Linked DNA regions of Homo sapiens. The protein of the gene in region 4 purifies or fractionates together with the protein of the main gene of each other region. This does not show direct contact. Each region holds a gene or a part of one and is shown on either strand. Other genes may lie near its edges.

The links.
Region 1: the proteins of KATNIP (region 4) and PTPRU purify together in Homo sapiens (tandem affinity purification; one large-scale study listed by IntAct). This does not show direct contact.
Region 2: the proteins of KATNIP (region 4) and KRT74 purify together in Homo sapiens (tandem affinity purification; one large-scale study listed by IntAct). This does not show direct contact.
Region 3: the proteins of KATNIP (region 4) and BSN purify together in Homo sapiens (tandem affinity purification; one large-scale study listed by IntAct). This does not show direct contact.

The regions. Positions count from the first base shown.
Region 1 is NC_000001.11:29,323,522-29,327,300, reverse strand, and holds the end of PTPRU (receptor-type tyrosine-protein phosphatase U isoform 1 precursor), read right to left. Parts: intron 3,671-3,779; coding exon 3,513-3,670; intron 2,111-3,512; coding exon 1,975-2,110; intron 1,703-1,974; coding exon 1,640-1,702; 3' UTR 501-1,639; downstream 1-500.
Region 2 is NC_000012.12:52,571,044-52,575,153, reverse strand, and holds the start of KRT74 (keratin, type II cytoskeletal 74), read left to right. Parts: upstream 1-1,310; 5' UTR 1,311-1,376; coding exon 1,377-1,847; intron 1,848-2,486; coding exon 2,487-2,701; intron 2,702-3,149; coding exon 3,150-3,210; intron 3,211-3,699; coding exon 3,700-3,795; intron 3,796-4,110. UniProt on the Homo sapiens protein: Has a role in hair formation. Specific component of keratin intermediate filaments in the inner root sheath (IRS) of the hair follicle.
Region 3 is NC_000003.12:49,669,477-49,672,049, forward strand, and holds the end of BSN (protein bassoon), read left to right. Parts: 3' UTR 1-2,073; downstream 2,074-2,573. UniProt on the Homo sapiens protein: Scaffold protein of the presynaptic cytomatrix at the active zone (CAZ) which is the place in the synapse where neurotransmitter is released.
Region 4 is NC_000016.10:27,749,144-27,752,643, reverse strand, and holds part of KATNIP (katanin-interacting protein), read right to left. Parts: intron 3,061-3,500; coding exon 2,338-3,060; intron 926-2,337; coding exon 720-925; intron 1-719. UniProt on the Homo sapiens protein: May influence the stability of microtubules (MT), possibly through interaction with the MT-severing katanin complex.

The DNA of each region.
Region 1 (3,779 bases), on a different chromosome or scaffold from region 4:
AACACGCTTGGCACTACATAAGGCACTTAATCATTACCTCATCTGATCCAAACAGGACTGTCCCCACTTTACAGATGATAAAGTAGGCCCCAGAGAGGGCACTAACTTGCCCAGGGTCTCGCAGCTGCTGGGCCCATCTGCCTGACACCAAAGCCTGAGCCTCCCATGCTGCCCCAGAAAGAGCTGAACCTGATCCAGGGCCCCCAGTGGAGTGAGAGGCAGCTCTGTGGCCCTCAGGGATCTCGAGTTGATATACCCTACCTGAGGAACTGCTTCAGAGGCCTGGATGGGGACAGCAATGGCCAGGGTCCCTTGGAACCAACTCTGAAAGTGGAAGGACCCTGAGTGATGTCCTGGTCCACACTCCCACCATTTTACGAATGGAAAAACCAGGACCAGATCAGAACCCAGGCTTCTCCAGGGCCCTCCCACTGCACTGGAGGCTGGGGGCAGGTGAGCAGGCCCCGTCAGGCTGGTGAGACACACACAGGGCTGCTCTGTGGCATTCAGAGAGCACGTTTATTTACAAAGCGCTTTACAAACATCAGCTTATGCCTCCCCACAGCCCCCTGCGAGGTAGGTCAGTAGTCATATCTACAGTTTACAGATGGGGAAATTGAGGCACGGAATGGGGGTGTGGCCTGCCCCATTTTAAAGAGACCTTCCCACCCACCCAACCAAAAATAACAAAAGAAACAAAAAAGCACTGGTCCTACCTCTTCCTCTGAACTCCAGAGGGTATGACCAGCCCTGCTCTAACACTGCCCCTCCCCACAACGGGCAGCCTGACCAGGAGCCACAGGGGCCTCAACCCCAGGGGCTGTTGTTCAGCCTTGCAGATTGTCACTGGCCCAAGCTGAGCAGGACAGGCCAGTGAGGCCTGAAGATTAAAGGAAGAGGGGGGCGAGGTGACTTCATTCTGCAACAGTGGGTCAGGCAGGGAAGGAGCCCCCCATGGGGCACAGCAGTAATAGGCAGATCCTGGTTCAGGGAAGCTCAGAGCACATATCAGGGAAGCAAGTGGGGAGGGATAGTGAGCAAAATATCTCAGGGGCTGCAGGGGGCAGTGGGGAGGAGGGCGCTGCAGTTCCCCTGGGGAGGACAGTCAGTGTGCCCCACTGGCTATTCAGAATTGAGACCTGCTTCCCCAGGACCTTCAGGGGCTGGGCCAGATGGAATCCTAAATGCCAAGTCCCAGTACATCCTCTACCCACATGCAGAGGGGGCAGGCTGAGTGGGAACCTTGGCCTGGGATGCTCTCTGCAGGGCCTCACTCATCCCTGCCAAAAGCCAGGATGGTGCCAAGGGGCTTGGCCTGAGTCCCCCAGAGCCAGCCGTCCTGAGCCTTTGTCACTCTGCCAGGCAGCACCAGGCCTCTCAGCACAGGCCTGCAGGACCCTATGGAGGTGGGGCTGGGCTGCAGACTTGCTAAGCTCCTCCTTGGCCCACCACCCGCCCATGGGACAAGCGAAAGGCCCTGCCCACAGTGGAAGGGGGAGCAAGATAGCCCAGCATCCACTCCAGTGCTTGCCCCATGGGAGTGTGTTTGGGCAGAGCAGGAGGCACTGATCTTCCTCGCCAGTCCAGGATGGTGGGTCTGGCCCTGAGTGTGCAGTGGGTGCCCCAGGCCAGGGCCCCGCTATCTTGACTCCAGCCCCTCCAAGTACTCCAGGGCCACATCGTAGCAAAAGTGGTACTGATCCTGGGGAGAGGAAGAGAGGGAGGGAATCATGAGCCTGACCCCAACTCCAGTATTGTGGGGGGAGGGGAACGGGGAGTGAGAGGGCAAGCACGAGCCCGAGCCCAGGCCCGCCCTCGGGGAGAAGGGAGAAATGGGGGTAATGTTTTAGGACCACAGGGCTAGAACCAAGGCCCAGTGGTGGGGCCCAGATATGGGAGAGTGGGTGCTAAGGAACCTGGCCTGGCATGGACCAGGAAGGTGGAAGTGGCTGGGCACGGGACACAGCCCCTCACCATGGTCTCCACCATGTTGGGTTTGTAGTTCCGGAGGGTTTTGGCAGCAAAGAAAACGTCCACCAAGTTGTGGCAGCGGATCATCTCCAGGACCGTGGCGCAGGCGCAGAAGGTGCCGCTGCGTCCTCCCCCGTTTCTGAATGAGAGATGCAAAAGCTGAGGGGCGGGGCCTTGGAACCTGAAGGTAAGAAAAGGGCCAGGGAACCACGAGGGAGGGGCAGAGAGCCTAGAGGAGAGGGACGGAGCTAGGGAATCTAGAAGGGTGGGGCAGAGAGCCCAGAGGTGAGGGGCGGAGTTAGAGAACACAGAAAGGAGGGGCCCGAGAGCCTAGAGGAGAGGGGCGGAGCTAGGGAACCCAGAAGGAAGAGGCCAAAGAGCCCAGAGATGAGGGGCAGAGCTAGGAAACCCAGAAAGGAGGGGCCAAAGAGTCCAGAGGTGAGGGGCGGGGCTAGGAAACTAAGGAGGGCCAAAGAGCCCAAGGTGAGGGGCAGAACTAGGGAACTCAGAAGGGCGGGGCAGAGGACCCAGAGGTAAGGGGCGGGGCTAGGGAACCCAGAGGGAGGAGCAGGACCAGGTTAAGAAGGATCAGAGGCTAAGACATCTCAGAAGACATATTCTCAAGGCGAAACAGACTGCGGATTCTGAGAGAAAGGAGGCCAGACACACTCCAAGAGAAACACCCGGAGAGACAAAGACAGTGACAAAGAAGGGCGGAGGAGCAGCAAGCGCGTACCCAGAGAGCAAGGTGGAACAGGAATGCTGAGAAGACTGGTCACCACCTGGCATCGTGGGCACACAGGCACAAACGTACCCAAACCCCAAGTCAAACCCACAGCCTCCCACAGAGCTCCATCCCCTCCGTGCCTCTCCCTCCTTCCCTGTGACTCCACGTGTGGGGTGCCTCCTGGGGAATGGCAGACTGATGCGGCCCTCACTCCCCTTCTCAGGGGTCTTTCCCACCAGAACCAAAACCCCTGGGGGCCAGACCCGGACTGACTCAGCTCCGCACCAGCTTCCAGTAGGCCCAGCCTGCCACTCGAAAGGCTCAGTAAATGCTGAAAGCATGAAAAAGTGGGGAGCAAAGGAGTGACTGCACCCAGACATGAGTGAATACATGAACTTATGAATGGGGCATGCAGATGGATGGATGGATGGATGGGTGGATGGATGGATGGATGGAAAAAGTCACATGTGTGCATGCATGAACAAAGACTGGAATTCTATTGGCATAAAAGTGTGCCACAATCTCATGGGGTAAAAAATTCTGACCAAGGACTCTAATTAAATTGGCAAAGTCAGACATCACACAGAGGATACTGGGCAGTTGTTCAGGGCTGAGTCTATAGCCTGGAAACTCACTGGATTCCTCCAGGGCCAGCCTTGGCTGGTTGGGCAGCATCCTGGCCACAGCCATCTAAGAGCCCAGGGGTTTCGGTGCCAGCTTTGCAGTCCAGCCAAAGCTGGCACCCTTTCAGACTGGACCTCTGCCCCTGGCTCCCCAACCCCTCCACCCGCCCTCCCACAGGGCAGGTACTCACAGGCAGTGCACGATGGTGCGCCCATCCCCACTCTCGGCCTGCCACTTGTCCACCTCAGCCAGCAGGTGCAAGAAGGCCTTCTTGGAGTCAGGTGTGTCCCGGTATGCAGACCAGCGCAGGAACTGGAAGTGCCGCACCAGCAGGTGCCCCTCCTGCAACTGGGGACAGGGGCAGCCAGCCAGGGAGGACATGAGCACCAGGGTCCCAGGGGCCCCTGATGACACAGAGGGTCATTAAAAGCTGCCCCAGCCACCACCCAGGGTCCTT
Region 2 (4,110 bases), on a different chromosome or scaffold from region 4:
GATACCTAGCTTTGAAATAATTTTTTTTGTTTTTTGGAGACAGAGTCTTGCTCTGTTGCCCAGGCTGGAGTGCAGTGGCACAATCTAGGCTCACTGCAACCTCTGCCTCCCAGGTTCAAGTGATTCTTCTACTTCAGTCTTTTGAGTAGCTGCGACTACAGGCATGCACCACTGCGCTCGGCTGATTTTTGTATTTTTAGTAGAGGCGGGGTTTCACCATGTTAGCCAGGCTGGACTCAAACTCCTGACCTCAGGCAATCTGCCCTCCTTGGCCTCCCAAAGTGCTGGGATTACAGGTGTGAGCCACCATGCCCAGCCCTGAAATAATTTTTTAACATTGCACTGTACCCACACTACCTGAGCTATAAAGCAGTGATACTTCCTGTTTGAAAATTGAGTGCTCCCTGAAGTTGCCAGGAAACTGGCAGAACAGCCCACCCTGAACCTGGGAGTGAAACTCAGGGGGTCCTGTTCCTTGGTGACTTCAGCCATAGGGTGTTTCCCCAGGGAGTGCAGGGGCTAATATCCCAGCTCCTGCCTGACTTCCTAGAGTAGGACAAATAATCTTATCCAGGAGAGAAAATCCAACTGGAGGAAATGCAGCTGACTGGAAAGGTTCTCATGGTTGTAAGGCAATGTCAAGGTCACCACCACCCAGGCCCTGCCCAACACAGAAGGCCCTAGACAATATCCCTGCTAGGGGGGCATGCAGATGCTGCAGAGTCATTCCTCTTCCTTCCTGGGGTCCACTTCACTGCTAGACAGCTGTGGTCCTTAGCATGGCCCAAGGACGGACCCTGGAGCTTCTTACCCAGATCCAGATCTTTGAGGACATCTTTCCAAGAAGAATCATCTTTCCATGTCTTCTTTTCCCTGAGGTAAAAATTCCAGCTTCCACACAAGACCCTATAATAGAGAGATGGTTTCTTTTGGGAAGAAACCTGGGGTTTTTCAGGTGAGTCTACTCTGGGGAAAGCCAGGCATTTCCCCTGCTCCTTGCTGATGGTTAAGCAAGAAGGAGGTAGCACTGGAAAAATAAAGCTAGGAGATCTCTTCAGGGGATAACTCTTCAGGTCCTTAATTAGGGAGCACAGATAAACTCCAAATTAGACCACTCCACTCTGCAAGGGCAGCATATTCCACTTGCTATCAGAAGAGCTTTGTTGCTGCAAAGGGCTTGGAGATCTCTGTTCTACAAATTGCCCATGGCCCCTGGCCCATCAGCAGGGGAAAGGAGATAGTGGAGAGACGCCCTTTTCCGGTGTCCTGGGCTCAACAGGGATAAAAGGAGGCAGCACTCTGGGTGCCCCATCAGTGTGTTCTCTACCCCTTGGAGACTGCTTTTCTCCAGCTCTGTCAACTCAACCTTTCCCACCATGAGTCGGCAACTGAACATCAAGTCCAGTGGTGACAAGGGCAACTTCAGTGTGCATTCGGCAGTGGTGCCAAGGAAGGCTGTGGGTAGCCTGGCTTCTTACTGTGCAGCTGGCAGAGGGGCTGGCGCTGGCTTTGGCAGTCGGAGCCTCTATAGCCTTGGAGGGAATCGGCGTATTTCTTTCAATGTGGCTGGTGGCGGCGTTCGGGCTGGAGGTTACGGCTTCAGGCCTGGCTCTGGGTATGGAGGGGGCCGGGCCAGTGGCTTTGCTGGCAGTATGTTTGGCAGTGTGGCCCTGGGGCCTGCATGTTTGTCTGTGTGCCCACCTGGGGGCATCCACCAGGTCACTGTCAACAAGAGCCTCTTGGCCCCCCTCAACGTGGAGCTGGACCCTGAGATCCAGAAGGTGCGCGCCCAGGAGCGGGAACAGATCAAGGTGCTGAACGACAAGTTCGCCTCCTTCATTGACAAGGTGGGTCTCATAGGAGGAGGATGAGGCCGCACCCTGAGGCCTGAGCAGTTTTCCTGCTGCCTGGGAATGGACTGCACACTGTGGCTGGAAAGGTGCAGCTGGGCCTCAGGAAGGGCTTCCTCACCATTAGGGAAGGAGAGTAGGTCTGTGAGCCACGGAGGACAAAGGAATACATGAATATATCGGCTTCTTTGGCGATTTTGCAGGGAAGGATGGGAAGCTGGGTAAAGAGCAGCCCTTCCTTGACAAAAAAGTGATGAGTTTCTTGAGGACAGCTGGATCTTCCAAGAACATGAAAGGCTAATAGAATCCAGCAGTGTTCAGAGGGAAGGGCTCATGGTACAGGAAGAGACACTTAGTTGAGACATAAGGAAGGACATCTCCTGGGACCAGGGCCGAGCAATAGAAGAAAGCTGTGGAAACTCCTTGAGTGAGTTCTCAGTGATGCCTTGTCCAGAAGGCTAGGAAATGAGCACTTGTAAAGGATCTAGTTTGTGTGGAATGGCAAGGGTGGAGAGTCAAGACATGAGCAAAAATGACTACAACAATCTATGGCAAACCTGGGGAGTCAATGGTGTGTGTCCAGGGGGCATGACTGCACCCATTGTGGTTCCAGGTGTCTGTTGATTTGGGTTCCAGGTACGCTTCCTAGAGCAGCAGAACCAGGTTCTAGAAACCAAGTGGGAGCTGCTGCAGCAGCTGGACCTGAACAACTGCAAGAAGAACCTGGAGCCCATCCTTGAGGGCTACATCAGCAACCTGCGGAAGCAGCTGGAGACACTGTCTGGGGACAGGGTGAGGCTGGACTCGGAGCTGAGAAGCATGAGGGATCTGGTGGAGGACTATAAGAAGAGGTGAGCAGGCTCCACCCGAGGGTCACAGACCATGTTTCCCGTGCCTCTGGGCTCACCTGATCTCTGTGCCATTATTTTTTAGGAGATGGGGGAGTATGCACCAGGGTCAGGAGCTCACATCCCTTTCTCTGGCTAGGGGGAAGGGCCTATCCTCTTTGATGATAACTTCCTGCCTAGTTGATAGGAAGCGGTTCCTGTGCTCCTTGACCCACTGAAATGTTCAGTTGCTGGTGTCGGGAGCCCAATAGGCACCTGGGTGTTTTCCTAACATGCAAAAACTAGGAGACAAGTGAAGCAACTCAGGGATATCTTACTCCTGTCACTAGCCTCTTACTGCTCACCCCAGAGACCCTGCAGGGACCCTGTATCCCAAACATTTGCCTGGCCAGCAGGAAGAGAAAGTTCCTTGGCTAAGGGGGCTAAGGCCATCTACTCTCCCTGCTGGCAGATATGAAGTGGAGATTAACCGGCGCACGACAGCAGAGAATGAGTTTGTGGTGCTTAAGAAGGTAAGAGAGGGAGGAGCCTCCTTATTAGGGTCTCTCGCACCCCCATCTTAACAACTCTGCTCAGGACTTCAGCCCAGGAGGCTGGGGAGGGGGCTGGTGCCTGGTGAGGGGGCTGGTGCCTGGTGAGGGTGGAGTCATAGTCCTGGCCTCCAGTGAGTTGGAGAGGAAAGACACACACTCAGGAAATGGACAGAGACAGACAGAATTCTGGTCTGGGAACTGTGAAACTCGGGTCCAGCTCAACCTTGCTGTGTGACCTGAGGAAACCTACTACCTCTCTGGGCTTTGTTTTCTCCAGGCATAACAGAGCTGCCCCATCCTCCTTTCCCTATTCCCAAAGCTTCAGGCAGCCTGAGAAGAAATTGATATTGAGTGAGCTTTCCTTTGTGGGTAGAAAATAGAAAATCAGGTGGCTTTGAGGCAGGAGTTGGGCAGGGCAGCTGTGGGATGAGGGTTGCATCCCCCAATGACTCTGGGGCCTCTTGGCAGGATGCAGATGCAGCCTACGCAGTCAAGGTGGAGCTTCAGGCCAAAGTGGACTCACTGGACAAAGAAATCAAGTTCCTCAAGTGTCTGTATGATGCAGTAAGGACACTCCTGTCCCCCCACCCTCACCCTGCCTCCTTCCCGACTCTTCCAGGGAGATACCAAAAGGAGAGATTTAGGATCAACAAAATGAAAGATGTTTTGGTAGAAAGGTACAAAACCCTGCACCAGGAGACCATGGAAGTGCAGGATGCTGGTCCTTGGAGGCCATACATACAGGAGGAAATTGATCTTGATACAATAGTGGACTTGCCCACGGGCAGGAAAAGATAACCCAGTGAGGTCTTACAAAGCACAGAGCCTTGGATTCTGTGAAATTGTGGAAAATGCATTATTCACCCGTCTGCATGTGCC
Region 3 (2,573 bases), on a different chromosome or scaffold from region 4:
CGCAAGGGCAGAGCTGGGCGGCATCCACAGCCAGAGAGGCAGAGGCAAGAGCAGAGCCAGGCTGTGCCCGAGGGACCCCAGCTCTTGACTGCACCTGTTTCATGCCTCTCCTCTGTGGCTAGGAGGCTCAAAGGACTGTGAGCCAGGAGATCTGGGCTGGAGCTAGGGGGTCAATGGATGCTCAGGAAGAGCTGGGCCTTTGGCACTTGTGGTGAGAACAGTTGACAGTGGTCATCTGGAACTGTTCATATAAACAGTGGCTTCAAGCTAAGTTTCTTGTGAAGTTTCTCAATAGCAAATCTTACAGAAGGTCCTGTGTGACCCTCTCTGCATCTGTCCCCAGGACCTATGCTCCCTGCTCACCCCCTTCTCCAAAGCCCAAGCGTCCCGCTGCTCATCAGCTTTTTTACCATTGAGCCAGGAGTGCGGCAGGCAGTACCTGCCTGACCCTTCAAGGCCTGACCTTCGTCCAGAGTGCTCTGGTTTGCACCATGCATTTCTCAGGGGTCCGCATTTCTCATGCTTTTCTATAAGATCTACACACCCCTTCAGAGAGGGCTCCTCGCTCACCTCTGGTAGCTATGGATGGGACAGGAAGCTGCCAACCTTTGTGTTGGACTTAACACCCTTGCCTTTCTGGGACTTGGCCTCACCCCACCCATGGAATACCTGCCTCATCCCAAAGATCAGGTATGGGCTGAATGCAGCCATCTGAGCAAGGGCTGAGGGAAGCCATCACCTAACACCTCTGGCCACCCAGGACCAGGTCTGTGTGGGGATGTGCCTTGGAGACCAAGGCAATAGTCCTTTCCACTACAGGCCAGGGGATGGGACAAGAAGTAGGGAACAGGCAGGGAAATGTTAGGAGGTCAGCCTCCAGCAGGCCTAGTCTCAGGCTCTAAAGTACTGACTTTTCAGCAAATTTCCTTTCTGGCCAAGCCCTCTGAGTTTGAAATTCTGACATCTGCCACTCCTCATCCCCCACTGTACCCACAGGATACATCATCGCCCCTCTGTGAAGGTGGCTGGAGCAGGCCTCTGGTCCATGGACTGTCCTTCCTGGCCCTTGCATGGATGCAGTTGTGACTCTGGGGACAATGCAGCCAGAAGCTGAGGGACCAGCACTTGGTGCCTTGGAAAGTAGAGAGCAACAGACACATCTCCAAATGGGCAAGGAGTCTCTAGCATGCAGCCCAGGCCTTCTCCATACCCCTCTCCCCAGCATCATGAGCAAGGGCATTGCCTCCTCTCTCTGCTCACTTCAGGGCCCAGTGCACTCACTTCACAGTGACAGCCCTCCCCTACAATCCTTGGGCAGAGCATGTGGTCTGAGGGCCCACAGTGAAAGAACAGCAGTGGTGGCAACTATGCCTTGCCTTCTGGAGCCTGTAGGGAGTTTTCCAGGCAGGTCCTTTGCCAGGACAGCATGGTCCTGCCCTGTTGTCCCGTCTGCTCTCCTCTTACCCACCCCCATGCTGTAAATACTTGTCATCATGGACTCCAACAGGGTTAGAGGGACAGGCCTAATCAACTGAAACTCCTCGGAGATGCCATCTCTGTCTCCCTGGGTGCCAGCAGCCCTGCTGCCATGTGCACTGGGGTGGCACTGGAGAGCCATGGCAGTCGTGAGATATTGTATGTGTATGCACATGATCATGTGTGTATGTGCGTGCGTGCGTGCGTGTGTGTGTGTGTGTGTGTTTCTGCCTCATTCAGTTTCTGGGGTCAAATCAGCTCCTTCTCTCCAAGTGCACTACCCTGGAGAGTGGTGGCCACTCAATACCTTTTCCTCTAGCTTTCATGTCTTGTTTTTGCTTTCCCCTTCCTCCTCCCTCTCTCCCTTTCTTTCCTTCTCTCCTTCTTTATTTGAGGGGGGAAGAGTGCTGTACAAAGTCAAACAAACAAGTTTACAGTTGTAAGTGCAATGACCCGAGTCCTCCACATGACCTTGTGAATTGTGTGCTGTCCTTCTGTGCTCTGTGAGAACTCGTGGTACTTCAGTGTCCCTCCCCCTGTATTGTGACAAGGTAATTCTGTGGTATCAGAATAAAAGGACTTGATATAAACAACCTACAGACTGTTTCTGGGATGGTTTCTCAAGTGGGAAGGCTTAGCTGAAGGAGCAAATCCCCAAATTTGCGACAATCCTGTCCATGGTTAAAGGGAAAAGGATGGACAAAGTTGCAGAAGTGCTGGCACAGCACGGGGCTGAGTCCACACCAAGCCATCCAAAGACAATGGGCCCTCCACAAAGGTGCCCAAGGGGAGGTCCCAAGCTTGGACCTGGAGCAGGCAGTCAGTGCGCAGGCTGTTGAGGGACAGCACCTCCATGGCCTTCAGGTGTGTTGGCTGCATACACAGCTTTCTGGGACCTGGTTCCAGGGAGGCAGTGAACAAGTGCTGCCCCCTGGTGCTGCCAACAAGCCCTACACCTCTCTGCCTTGCTCCGAATTTTCCAACCCCCAAACTCTCACCGGCTGCCAGACCTTAGGCCTTCCTCAGATGGTCAGGAGTACCTCCTTACCGAAGTCACCCAGAGTTGCTAGACCTTTTTTTTTTTTTTTTTTTTTTTT
Region 4 (3,500 bases):
GGGAGTTTGAGCTGCAATGAGCTATGATCACGCTAGTGTACTCCAGCCTGGGCGACAGTGCCAGGCCCTATCTCTAAACAAAATAAAAAAATAATAAGTTGCTTACCAATTAAAAGCATAAACTGTGGAATCACGCATTCAAGTTCTACCCTTGTTTCTCTGTCACAATGTGCCCTTGGGCAAGTCACTTGACTTCTCTGAGCATCAGTTTCCGAAATGGCAATGTTAATAGTCTCTACTCAGAGGGTTGTCATGAGGGTGAAACAAGAACACTGTGTACCCTGCTTGGATCATGATATGTGTTCATGAAACCATGGCTGTGATGATCATTATTTTAACTGTAACTCTGCCTATGAAAAGCATTCCTAGTCCTTCCATCAAAAACAACAGTGAATGATCAAAACGCAACCCCAAGCAAAAACTCCCCCCAGACTGCCAACCTCTGAATTGCAGAGATGACACAGAGCTCATTTCTCCTGGCTTTGATTAGAATTTGAATACTTTCTTTACTTCGGTTAAAAAAAAATAAAAAAATAAAAATAATTAGAGAATGAAATATGACATAGAGGACAAAAAAACAAAGTAGAAAGATGGGAAATGTCAACACAGTGGCACCAGCAGCTTAAAGGATATCCATCTTAATTCTCCCTGCTCTACTCTGAGTTAGGGGAAGAAACCTATCTGGGGGTCCCCCCACAGCCCCCCAGCTCCAGTCCTACCCGTTCATCAGCCCCCAAGCCAGCCTGGGTGAAGGGCCGCTCATCCCCCTCGCCGTCGGCCGTGCTGGGCCTCCTCATTGCCTCTTCATCCTGCAGGCTGTCCAGGCTCCCCACATCCAGGTCAAACATCTCATCAGAATAGAATATGGCCTCGAGAATGTCATCATCGGTTGTGAATAAGATCGTGTCTCCAAAGTGCTCTGGGGCTAATGGGTTATCAAGATGACAGAAAGGTCAACTCACTTCACATCCCAGAGATTTGTAGATCAAGAGCCTAAACCCATCCACTTCTGTGCTGTACAACCCCACACCCTTAACTGGTATTGATTAGTGTGAGCCTTATTAGTCTTCACAGATTTGCAAATGGAATGCACGGACCATAAGCATCACATGGATCTAAGGAAGGGATCTAATTTCATGAGAATCACTGTGATATGTCATCAGGCAAGTGACATTTCTTTGGGGTGGGCAAGGCACTATGCAAGACGCTGTTGGTACCCCACCCAGATCTTGGTGGATCCTTTTCTCAGAGTGCCTTGCCTGGAAGGGTGTGGGAGTTACAGCTCCAACCCGGCAAGCCTTGGTTCCAATGACTGCCTGGTAGGTGGGGTTCTAACGCCCTGCTCCTTCACCTTCAGGCAGGAAAGACCTGAAATTTATGTTCCAGACCTCCCTCAAGATCTGGTTGTGGCTGGGCTTCCTGGAAACTATATCCTTGCTTCACTATGCCAGGTTTCTCCTAGGAGCACTCCCTCCATAAGTCACTTGCCAAAGAATGCCCCATCTCAGACTCAGGTTCTAGGGGCCGGACCAAGACAGGTGCTTTATGGGAGATGCTGAATGAGGTCAGGCCTAGCACACTCATGCTGTAAGAGGGGATGAGTGGACCGGGTCTGTGGCTGGGTGCAGGGGCTCATGCCTGTAATCCTAGCACTTTGGGAGGCCAAGGTGGGTGGATCACTTGAGCCCAGGAGTTCGAGACCAGCCTGGGTAACATGGTGAAACCTCGTCTCTACAAAAAATACAAAAATTAGCCAGGTGGGTTGGTGCACCTGTAGTCCCAGCTACTTAGGAGGCTGATGTGGGAGGATTGCTTGAGCCCAGGAGGTCGAAGCTGCAGTGAGCCGAAACCATGCCACTGTGCAGGGCAAGATCCTGTCTCCCCACCCAAAAAAAAAAAAAAAAAAAAAAAGGGCTGGGCGCGGTGGCTCACGCCTGTAATTCCAACACTTTGGGAGGCCGAGACGGGCAGATCATGAGGTCAGGAGATCGAGACCATCCTGGCTAACATGGTGAAACCCTGTCTCTACTAAAAAAAAAAAAAAAAAATACAAAAAATTAGCCGGGCGTGTTGGCGGGTGCCTGTAGTCCCAGCTACTCGTGAGGCTGAGGCAGGAGAATGGCGTGAACCCGGGAGGCGGATCTTGCAGTGAGCCAAGATCGCGCCACTGCACTCCAGCCTGGGGGACAGAGCAAGACTCCGTCTCAAAAAAAAAAAAAAAAAAGAAAGAGAAAGGACTGATCTGTTGTTGGCTAGCCAGCTGGTCTGTTTTTTCCCATAGACTCTCAGCAAGTCACAGATAGGGGCTCTGAGAAAATTCTTACAGACACGCCATACCTCCCGCCAGGGTTCCAGAGGCCTTGGCGATTTCTCCTTCAAAGATGCACTGGGTGTCTAACAGCATTGTGATGTCCTTCACGCCTCGGAAGGAATGTATCCGAGATTTATTGTAGTTCCAAATTCTGATCAGGGCAACGTGGCAAGGGTGCGTGAAGTCAATGGTGATGGAGTGGGATCTGCCCCGCGTGAAGGGGGCCAGCCAGACATGCATGTCATCCTGGGTCCTGTTCACCCCGTCGATGAGGTTGGTGACCACGCGGGGGTCTTTCCCATAGGCTGGTAAAATATTGATATCGGGAGGGTCTGCTTTTATGTTTGAAATCTGCACCGGTTCACCCTTGGAACTGAATATTTCTATTCCGTTGAGGCCGACATAGTGTCTGTCCCCCCAGGTAGACTTGATGTCAATGACCAAGCGCTGTCCATAAGGCAAGACGGGGATTTTAAAGTCACCCCCAGCGTCTGTCTCTCCAGAGTAGCCATCCTGCCCTCTCGACAGCCCTGGCTGCTCCCCCTTCTTGGAGGGGGGCAAGTCGCTGTGCCGGCTGCTCTTTTGCTGCAGGAGCTCATCCAGGATGTCCCCCGGGAGCTCCGTGTTGGAGATGCGTCCCCGGTGGGAGCGGTCGAAGGCACTGAGGGAGCTCCATGACTCGTGAAGTGTGTGCTCCTGCTCACTGCGCCACCTTGACCGTGACGGCGTCCTGGAAGACCAGGTGTCTTCTGGAAGAAAGGACACAAGAGGGGGGAAGCCCTGTGAGTGGCATGTGTGGAAGTGGGGACCATTAGAGACTGTCTCCTGTGGTGGCTCTCAGTGAGGCAGGGCCACCTCCAGGGGAGCCCTCTAGAAACCAGCGGGGTTGTTCCCGGCTGTCTCCTTAGCCAAGAGGCCTCTTGGCACTGGATGGCTGGGGCCAGGCATGTTACCATCCTGCACTGCATGGGGGCCCTGGCACAGAGCTTGGTCTCCTGTCCCACACAGCTTCTGACTGTCCTGTGGGCCATTCAGGTCGGTAAAATAATTGTCTATGATCACCCAATTCCAGAATCTGGTTGTTTTTGCAAAAACACAAAGCATTTTTTCATAGACTGAATTTTCTAAGAATGCAATCATCGTGTGAACCAAGGGAAGACTACTTGGCTGTGTTAGAAACTTTGCCAGG